Regions from separate parts of the Homo sapiens genome. Here region 2 is linked to region 1. The links come from fine-mapping of genetic effects on gene expression. Tissue or cell type: tibial artery. Region 1 holds a variant in brackets; the other region holds the start of a gene. All regions are shown on one strand. Distances are between the middles of the regions.

Region 1 (5,222 bases):
GCCAGCCAAAAAGGACTTCAGGTGCTCTGGAAATGTTTGCTAAATATGCCCGAGTGACGAGCCGATTGCTCTTGCCGGCAATTACTGTGATTGTGTGTATGGATGCACACATATTAAGTTTGTGCAACAGGATAAAAATCGTACACGTACGTGTATTTATGTGGGTGTGTGTAATGGGCCAGATATCTCAGCCAATGACTCTGTGTGTGTGTGTGTACTCACTATGTGTACAGATGGTTATCTCTGTTAACTGAGTGTCCTGGGACCCACATACTGATGGCCAGCCCTAGGATAGTTGTACCCATTTCCATCATAACATGGGCATTTGCGTATGTGCAGCTTGGGGGCCACCGAGACCAGCCCCCAACCTCTGGCCAAGAAAGTCTTGGCTCCTAACCCTCTGCCTCCTACCCCTACTCCTGAGCCTTGGGAAGGAAGTGGTAGAATCTGTGTAAGGGCAATCCTTTTGACTATACCTGCCTCATCATCTCCATTTGTTTCTTCCCTCCCCCTAACAGTGCCAAGGCCAACGTGTCCAGTTGGGCAGATTGTGCACTGCAAAAATCTAGAGGGCGCCATTGGTATTGTGACATGGGTAGTACCTATTAGACACCTGCACAACCTGCCAACTGTATACAGATGCCCTGGTCATCTCATGGCCATGGCTACGAAAGTTGCCTTCCCTCCCCACTACCAGCCCTGCCCAACCTAGGCAAAGATTCCTGCCTCTGCTTGAGTGTTCTAATGTGGCCCAGAAGTGACTTACCATTGACCTTAATTGGGAAGTATCTCCCTGATGGGCCATCCCCTAGAGGCCTTTGGAATTCCATTTATAAAAGTGAAATGTGGCTGGGAACTTTTCAGTTACTCATCTTTGCAAAGTGAAAGCCTCTGTAAGGCAAACCAAAGCTGTGAAGACTGGGGTCACTGACTCCCACACTCCTGGCCTGTGGGTGAATATATGCCTTCATGGCCATCTGCCACGGAATTAGGGTAAAGGCCTCAAGGCTAGTCTTGTAGCTAACTGCCACCAAGAAGCCACCAAGAAAATCACTGAGGTCACCCTAGACTGGATGCCTGGGCCAGGGTCACAAACCCCAATGCCTACAGGGGCGAGGCAGGAAACATAAATGAGTGGAGAGGATTAAGCCAGTTCTTCACTGAGAATGGAGAACACTGTGGTCTGCCATGGTTGCTGCCACATGGGAATGTGGCCTGAGGTTGCCGGATAGTCCGCCCCATTTTTGAAGAGAAGCTGGGAATCTGGACTTTTAAATGTTGGCAACTATTTTGAATTTAGAAAACACCATCTGGGCCAAATAAAACATATTCTGTAGGCGAGATCCGGCCCTTGAATCTCCAGTTTGCATCCGCTGGCCCAGGCCCAGAGACTTGGGTTTTTAAGACCCAAGTCACTGAGAGTCTGAGGATATTACACTCAGATTCTCAGTGATGGATATTTAAGAGACCTCAGAGATGACCTAGCTCAGCCTTTGTGTGTTCAAAACTGCGTATGTACAAACTTCTTTTTTTTTTTTTTTTTTTTTTTTTTTTTTTTTTTTTGAGACGGAGTCTTGCTCTGTCACTCAGGCTGGAGTGCAGTGGCACAATCTTGGCTCACTGCAACCTCCGCCTCCTGGGGTCAAGCAATTCTCCTGCCTCAGCTTCCTGAGTAGCTGGGATTACAGGTGCCCGCCACCATGCCCAGCTAATTTTTTGTATTTTTAGTAGAGATGGGGTTTCACCATATTGGCCAGGCTGGTCTCGAACTCCTGACCTCAGGTGATCCACCAGCCTCTGCCTCCCAAAGTGCTGGGATTACAGGCGTGAGCCACCACACTCGGCCTACGAACTTCTTTATTAATGTAATAGCGCACATATACTTAACTTCTGGTTTCTACTTAAGAGCATCTCAATAACCTCCGATATAGAATACGATGAAAAATGAAACCTGTGTGCATAATGTGCTTGTATCTACCTGTCAGAAGCCCTTTGCTTTGATAGCATTTGCTGCCTCAGTCTTCCTCATCACCCAACCTCTCTGGGTTGCTTGTT[A/G]TGATAAACCTAAGTGCCTCCGTAAATGGTTAGAGCATGTGTTTCTTCGTCTTTGTGACTTCCCTTGTCTGGGAATAAGACTGCTTGTACTTCTCCCAGCTTTGCCCTCTTTGGCCTACTAGTAGCACACCCCATCGATCCAGACCTGTCTGGCTCTTTGTAACATTTACCTGGTCACATGATAAAGGGTGCTGAGTGCTTGCCAGTGTGGGTCCCTGTCACTTCTCATGCATGTCCTATACCTTAATTTTACCACATGTGCTTCTGCTTCTTAAAAGCCATTCAAATAAATGGAGAGGGTTTTAATTAACTTACGTTGTCTTGTTTTTTCCCCACAATTGTATTCACAAACTGGCATATGGCCCCTCATGAAATGCTAATGGTGACGTAGGTAATGAAGAGGCCTGGGACCCGATTCATCCACTAGTGCTGGGATCTTTCTGTAGAATCTGTCCCAGCACATGAAGACCACCCTGAGGGGAGATTCCGCAATGGACAGCAGCCTGAGAGCATCAGAAGGCAAGCTTCCCCCAACAGGGCTCCTCACATGGACTCGGTGTTCCCATCTGGAACTACCAAGGGTGGGGATGGAGAGGGAGGAAGAGAAGATGAGAAAGGATGTGAGATGAAGGAAGAAGGGGATAACTCAGACTCCAGCCCTCACATCATTCTTCTTCCTGCACCCCAGGGTCTTCCTACACCCCAGGGTCTTCCTGCACCTCAAAGTGTCTGCAGAGCAGGAATCCAAGAGTGGCTTTTCTGGGTGGTTCTTACTCAGAGCCTCTCATGAGGTTGTAGTCAAGCTGCCAGGTGGAGCTGCAGTCAATGGAAGGCTTGCCTAGGGCTGGAGGAGCTGCCTCCAAGATGGCTCACTCACATGGCTGTTGGCAGGTGACCAGAGTTCCTCACCACAATGTTACCTGAGTGTCCTCATGACATGGCTGTTGGCTTCCCTGAGAGTGAGTAATCCAAGAGAGCAAGGCAAAAGCCACACCATCTTTTATGACCTAGCCTTGGAAGTGACATGTCATCACCTCTAGCATATTCCATTGGTCACACAGACAAACCCTGATACAAGGTGAGAGGGGACTACGCAAGGAGGTGAATATCAGGAAGTGGAGATGATTAGGGGCCATCTTGGAGGTTGGCTACCACATATTATTATACCTCCATCAGTCTGGTATACCAGGGGCCCCCAAGGTTATGTTAACCGTTCTTCTGCCCTGTGGCAAGACTAGACTTGAATGTGTCTCCTGGATTCTCCAACCTGAAGTCCCCTTGCTTTCCCACCTGTCCCCACCCAGTCACCAGGAATGGAGAGAAATATGATTCTTCATCTACTTCCTTCCCACACCTCCTGTCCAACATTCCTTCAGGGGCCTTGGAGTCACCTACTTGGGGACATCATCGAAACTGTGTTCTGAGATGTCTTAGTCTCATGGTAAAATTTTTATAATGTCCATAAGGCCAGTGGTCCCAGAGCTGTTTGTCCTGTTTTATGACCAGTGGCCCATGTCCAAGGTGAGGGAAAGGCAGGGGTGGGGGAAGGGTGGCATCCTAACACCCCCTCCTTCCTAGGCCTTGGATATCAGCCCCAGCCTCTGGTGCCATAAATGAATCCTCTACTTTCTGACATGGTCTTGGACTGGATTTGGGAATAAAAACCCCATGATGTGATACAGATGTGACTGTGGCTTGGAGCTGGAACCAAAAAAAAAAAAAGGAGTAACCACCAGATAAAGAAATCACAGACATAATTCTTTCTCCTCCCGTGTGCACTCCCTTTTCAACTTGCAAAGCTCATCCATGACCTAAGGCCTATGTGTTCTGTTTTTTTTTCTTGTGCTTACTAGTAGCCAGTTTTATTTTCCAATAGGTCACTTAAAGAAACATTATTTTTGGCCGGGCGCGGTGGCTCACACCTGTAATCCCAGCACTTTGGGAGGCTGAGGCGGGTGAATCACGAGGTCAGGAGATTGAGACCATCCTGGCCAACATGTTTAGTAGAAACCCCGTCTCTACTAAAAATACAAAAATTAGCTGGGCATGGTGGCATATGCTTCCACCCTCAAGATCTCATAATCTCCCAAAGGCCCGACCTCCTAATATCATCACATTGGTGATAAGGTTTCAGCATATTAATTTTGGAGAGGTATATTCAGACCATAGCAATTTGAATCTTCATTCTTTTTTTAAAATTTAATTTAATTTAATTTAATTTTAAGTTCTGGGATACACGTGCAGAACAGGCAGGGTTTTTGGGTTTTTTTTTGTTGTTTTGTTTTGTTTTGTTTTGTTTTTTTGAGATGGAGTCTCGCTCTGCCACCCAGGCTGGAGTGCAGTGTCGCAATCTCGGCTCGCTGCAACCTCTGCCTCCTGGGTTCAAGTGATTCTCTTGCCTCAGCCTCCCAAGTAGCTGGGATTACAGGCATGCACCACCACACCCAGCTAATTTTGTATTTTTAGTAGAGACAGGGTTTCACTATGTTGGTCAGGCTGATCTTGAACTCCTGACCTCAGGTGATCCAACCGTCTCGGTCTCCCAAAGTGTTGGGATTGCAGGCGTGAGCCACCGCGCCTGGCCTAGGTTTGTTACATAGGTAAAGGAGTGCCATGGTGGTTTGCTGCACCTACCCACCCATGAATCTTCATTCTTTCCTTCCTCTGGCAAAGTTCCCCTTAGAAGCCCTATGAAGCTCCAAGTGGTATAAAGCTCACCCCAGTGTGAGAATAATACAGCCACAGCCCAAGGATATGAACTTGTTACTTGCTTGCTGGGTGACCTTGCAAAACATGTATCCTCTGTGGCTGCCAGGAGAGTGCATAACTCACATCTCCTTCGAGAGAACCTGCTGCAAGGAGCATGATTACCCAACAGCCTGCAGCAGCTGCCCCTCTGGGTCTGCTGCAGCTTTCATGGGGCAGATAGCATGCTTTTCCTAGCCTGCTCCCAGTGGTGACTGGGCATGGTGGGGAAGCTAACACCAGGCTATTTCTGTCCTACGTGGGACCCCATCTTTACTCTGGGCCCAATGAGGACTTTCTCAGAGCTGCATTGCAGTCCAAGGCTCTTCCTAACCAAGCCATCTCCCTTCTCACTCTCCTTCACAGATGTCAGACCTGCATCATGGTCAAAAGGCTCTTTCTGCTTCCTCCTGCTCCCTCTC
Region 2 (5,222 bases), 21 kb before region 1:
TCCACCAAATTTCCTTTTGGGGGCATTTGTTGAAACAATGTGGAGAATCTCATGAAAGTGTAGAGATGGGCACCAGAGCCAGGCCTTAGCTAGAACTTGGGAAACTGTCAGGAGCAGAGGCGGCTCCATCTCAGGGCAGCATGGTTTCTCTCATGTGCTGCTCTCTGCACATCCTTTCCCATCTTGATCTGCTGCTCATCTCATTCTGCTCAGAGAGTCTCCACCTGCGCCGAGCTTTACTTTGCATATAACTGCAGTCTGCTGAGGCTCACCCAGGTCTCTTCGGAGCCAACTGTATTTCACAGCATCCTCAGCTTCTATTCCAATGGTTGACTGCCCAGCCCATTTCCCAATTCCAAATTCCTGAGAAAGACAAATCTGCTTGGCCCAGGTCATCTTTTCAAGCCAATCACACAGATTAAAGGCCGCTGGACAGCATGGGGGTGGCTCACTTTTGTGTGAAGTGCCCACCTCCATCCAAGTAACCACTCTATGTATTCTTCCTGAGTTACTTCATCATTCTTCTCCATGAGGCACCTGAGAATAATTGACCTCATTCCTAGAGTTTCAATTATTTATTGCAGTGTAACAAGCTACCCCAAAACTTGGTGCCTGAAACAACAATTTATTATTTTTGATGATTCTGTGAGTTGGCTGGGCTCAGCTGGAAGGTTTTACTGCTTCAGGTTGTGTTGGCTGGCGTCACCCACATAGCTGCACTCCACTGGGAGCTGAGCTGGGGCTGGGACAGCCAGGATGGCCTCATTCACATGTCTGTCAATTGTGCCTATAGTCACCTGGGCTGTCGCTAGCTTCTTATCCTCCAGGTCCTATCTGTCTCACTACGTGGCCTTTCCAGCAGGATAGTCCAGACTTATTTACATAGTAGCTGGCTCCCAAGAGGGCAAAAATGGAATCTGCAAGGCCTCTTAAGACGTAAGCTTGGAAACCACAGAGCACCACTTCTACTCCATTCAATTGGTCAAAGCAAGTCACAGGGCCAGCTCAGACTGGACTCCACCTCTGAATGGGAGGAATGTCAAAGTCACATTTCCAAAGGACAGGCAGGATGGAAGAGGTTTTTGGGCCATCTCTGGAAACAATCTTCTAGAAGTAAGTCTAAACACACTTCCCCCAATCCTAACATTTTATTATGATTTTTCCCTTCCTCCCACACAAGGGTTGGTTTATTCCTCCCAGGACCTGGTGGAGGCTGAGGGGATCACTCCATTCTGTAGCCCCCTCACCTCCCCAGTCAGAGGCCCTCCTAGCTAAGCCAGTGTTTTCTCCTGCTTCTCCCACCCACCCATGCACACCTCTGAGAGAGGCTGTCTGCTTCCTGGCCTGTACCTTGGGATGGGTGACATTTGTGTCTGCACCCTGAGACTAGTACAGAGCTCTGCATCAAGAGGGACAACACCCTGGAATTCCAGGATGGTAGTTCCGAGGCCCCTCTTCTGCCCTCCCTCTATCCAGCCCCTTCATGGCCTATAACAAATCACCCCAAGCTGGGCAGGTGGGGGCCTAGGAATGCGCGCCCTCTGCTGACCACCAAAGGGCCAGCAAGAATTCGGGTTCAGAGTCCCTGGGAGTCTCTCTGGCCTGGGTCCCCACCCCAGGCCAAGGTCTCGACCTGAGACCACCCGAGCCTGGTCTCAACATGGACTTCAAGGGCCCCTCCTAGGTGGTGTGGAGGAGCTGCCGGGTTGGGCCCTTCACTGAGCTCCCGCTGGGAGCAGGCTTCTGCTAGTGAGAGGAGCCATCCATGCATCACCTCCTGCCCGTCTGCCGGATGGACTGGCCTCGGAGGGAAGGGGACATCGTCAGGATCCCAGGGTCCTAGCTCCTAAAGGAAAGATGGGCAGCTAGCTTTTGGGAGGGGAGCGGCTAGCTTTTCATTTTGTCCTTTGGGGATCACTATCCTGGGGGAAAAAAAAAGTTGTCAGGCCTCTCCTGTCTCCGCGCCCTGCAGCGCCTGCGAAGAACATCATTTTCGCAATCCCCAATCCGCTGCAGCCCACAAACCCAGAGAGCCAGAGAGCCCCCCTCACCACCCAACCGGCTGCTGGCGTGGGTCGGTCGGGGAAGGAGAGCCCAGCTATCCCTCATACCGTACAGCAGTAGCAGCAGCAGCGGCAGCGACACACGGGCGACCGAGAGGGCCAGTGTGACCTCCCCCCGCCCGGCGGGCGGGGAGCCCAGCTCACACGCACAGCCTCCTCGCCGCTGCCCGCCCCCTTCCCTCGCCGGGACTCGCCTCCCTCCTGCAGCCCAGCCCCAGCCACCTCCGCGTCTACGCCGCCGCCTGCTCTGGCCGGGCCGGGTCAGAGCCGGAGCATGGAACCTGGGCAGCCCCGGGAGCCCCAGGAGCCCCGCGAGCCCGGGCCAGGAGCGGAGACCGCTGCGGCCCCGGTCTGGGAGGAAGCCAAGATTTTCTACGACAACCTCGCGCCCAAGAAGAAACCCAAATCGGTAAAAGCAATGCACGGGTATGCGGGGGACGGGGGAAGGGTTACCCCGGAGGAGGGGTCATAAGTCTCTTGGGAAGGGACCCGTGGCGCCCCTCTGGGAGGGGACGCAGCTCCTCAGCCCCAGAATGCGCCCTGCAGCTGGCGCGGGCTCGGGTTTATTTTGGGAGCTCTGCTCTGGTGTATTTTTTTACCGGGACTCGGGTTCCACGCCAGGCTCCCCCTCCCCCATGCTGTCATCAGGGCCCAGCTAGAGGCCCGCAGCCCCAGCCCCTCCCCACTCGGGCCGCCGGGGAGCGCGGATTGCACTTGTTGGCGAAGCTGGTCCGCAGCGCTTCCAGAAGCGCCCCAGGCGCGGGTAACCAGACTTTGGGAACCCGGTTCCTGGCTGTGCGCTCCGGTCTCCGCCATCTGGGCATCGGGCTCCGGACCTGAGACTCTGCGTTTGGGGTCTGGCTCTGGGTCCTGGGCCCTGGGCTGGGGGCAGTGCGCTCCCCGCGTCCTAAGGAAAGGGAGCTGCTCTCTCCAGGCACTGGGATCCACACTCTGCGCTGGGGGGCGATCGGCGCCCCTGGCCGCAGGCTCCCAGCGCTGGACTCTGCCCCCCAGCTCGGGTTCTGCTCCCCTTGCAGTGGGCATTAACATCCCCACGACCCTGTGGTGGTGTCAACCGTCTGGGACCTCACAGAGGAGCTCTCTCCTCTCTGCCATCAAACAAGTTGATGATGCCCTGGTCTGCCCCTGGACCTTGCTGTCTCCAACTTCCCAGATCTCAGAGCTTGAGGAGAAAACCGAGAATAGAGGTTGGCCCACAGCGGTCCTCCAAAGAGCTCCAGCTTGATCTTAAAGCAATTTGCTGCTTCCCTCCAAGAACCCTTCCCCAACAGGTCCACCCTATCAGCAATCATTCAATTAGCACCTCCAAGCTCTGCTCAAGAGTGGGGATTGAAGAATTAAATAACCTGAGTCCCTGCCTCAGGAGCTCACTGCACAATGATGGAGGCTCCAGAGATGAGAGCCTAGGGGAGTTGGGGGGGGAGTAGAGTAGTGACATCACACTGGGGAAAGCTTTGTAGAAGTGGCACGTATCCTGATCTTAAAGCCTGAGTAGGTGGAGTTTCCCAGGGAGAGGGAAACAGGACAGGCAAAAGTCATGCAGATGTCTCTGAAGCTCAGGACTGTGTTCCTGAATAAGTACTGAATGAAGAATGCAGGATTGTTGGAAGAAGAGCTGGAGGGATGTGGAAGAGCCCACAGAGGGCCTTGGGGATCATGTTAAGGAGTCTGGACCTTACTCAAGGGGGTCAGGGATTTCCAAACTAGCTTCCCCAAGCCCCATGTTTCAGGGAGTCTGCACACATGTGAATCCAATTTATTTTCTTTCTTCTTCGGACTATGTTTTAAACAATTAAAAATGTGTAATAAAACCCAACTCACTCTAATGTATTAGGTGGACATTTTAGCAGCTTGAAGGCCACTAGCTTGTGCTGCAGATTTTTTTAAAGCAAAGCTCAGAATAAGGCTTCCCCTGTGATCTGTTCCATCAAAGAGCGTCTTGAGATTGTAAGGCCTTTAGTTTAAAACAAACCAAAACAAAAAACCTTTTAGCATTTCCAACCACTTATTGGTCTGAATCAGGACTTTCTCAATACTGTACAAATACAAACACAGCAACAACTTGGCCGGATGCTGAAGCTTAAGTCTGCACTGGCATTCTAGCCGCTAGTTTCAAATTTGTTGTCATGCAAACAACTGTGTTGTTTTCATTGGTTGACTTTATAATAAATAAATAAATAAATGTAATGCATTTGAATCTGTAAAATAAATAAACACCAATTATATATGTTATATCTGGTACCATATGGTATGAGATATATGGTAATATCTGGCTTACATATTGAATTCAAAGTTTATTTGAATTCATTTAAATAAAAGGTCAACCTACATTTAAACAAACATATGAATACCATTATGGAGCTATTACAGGATTTTTCATCAGGGGATTAACTGGGTCCCATTTTTATTTTAGAAAGATCACTCTGGGATGGATTGGAAAGGGTGAGTCCGGCAGCAAACCCACCAGTGAGAAGGCTGGTGCCTCTCTGAAGAGGAAGCTGGATGAATGTCAATGCTGTGGCCTGAGTGATGCAGAAGAAGGGATGGAGACTGGGGACTGGGGCAGTGAAAGCATCAGTGCTCAAAATCCATTTCCTCCCCAGGCACCAAGGAACCGGAGAGCTCAGGCCCAGTTGTCAGTCATGACCCCTGGATCAGCCCCTGACTCTCATGGTTCTCTGGGAGGCAAGAAGCCTGGAGGCTTCCCAGCTCCTATTCCTTCCTGCAGAAGCCCCTCTTCCCACAGGCTATTTTGGGGGCTCTAGGCCTCATGGGCCCCATCATGGCCTGGCCTGGGCTAATTCTCATTCCCAGGGGCCTGAGTAAAATATTTAACGCCTGAAGGCCTGTTGGAGGCCCTCACCTCATGGGGTCAGAACACTTCTTCAATCCAAAACTCTCCTGTCCCTCTCTCTTTCAGCAGCCCTTCCCTCTCTAAGTCCTACTGGGAATAACAGCTTTTTGCCTATGTTTCTATCTTGGACCCAATAGGCAGAATTACGTTAGCCTAAATGGGAGCTCCTCAGGAAGTCCAGGTGGGGGTGGGCTGCACTCTGTTATTCTTCCATTCCCATCCCCTAGCCGGAGCCATCAGCCTGACCCTGAAAGGCAGAGAGAGCTGCCAGCACCCTGGTTTCC

The links. PIP is the estimated chance that this variant, and not a neighbour inherited with it, causes the effect. A credible set is the group of variants that fine-mapping cannot tell apart.
Region 2: it holds the start of NT5C1A, and the variant in region 1 is the best candidate, but not a certain one, in a credible set for the expression of NT5C1A in tibial artery (GTEx, PIP 0.56).

Annotation. Positions count from the first base shown.
Region 1 is chr1:39,648,372-39,653,593 of GRCh38, reverse strand. NT5C1A (5'-nucleotidase, cytosolic IA) reads left to right here. Exons shown (of 6, transcript NM_032526.3): 6 at 1-2,365. Among named protein-coding and RNA genes, the nearest start is that of HEYL, 11 kb to the right of the region's middle. The variant A/G (reference allele first, on the strand shown) is at 2,056.
Region 2 is chr1:39,669,154-39,674,375 of GRCh38, reverse strand. It overlaps NT5C1A (5'-nucleotidase, cytosolic IA), which reads left to right and starts at 2,269. Exons shown (of 6, transcript NM_032526.3): 1 at 2,269-2,472. The coding sequence starts at 2,338. RefSeq lists a silencer at 2,077-2,486.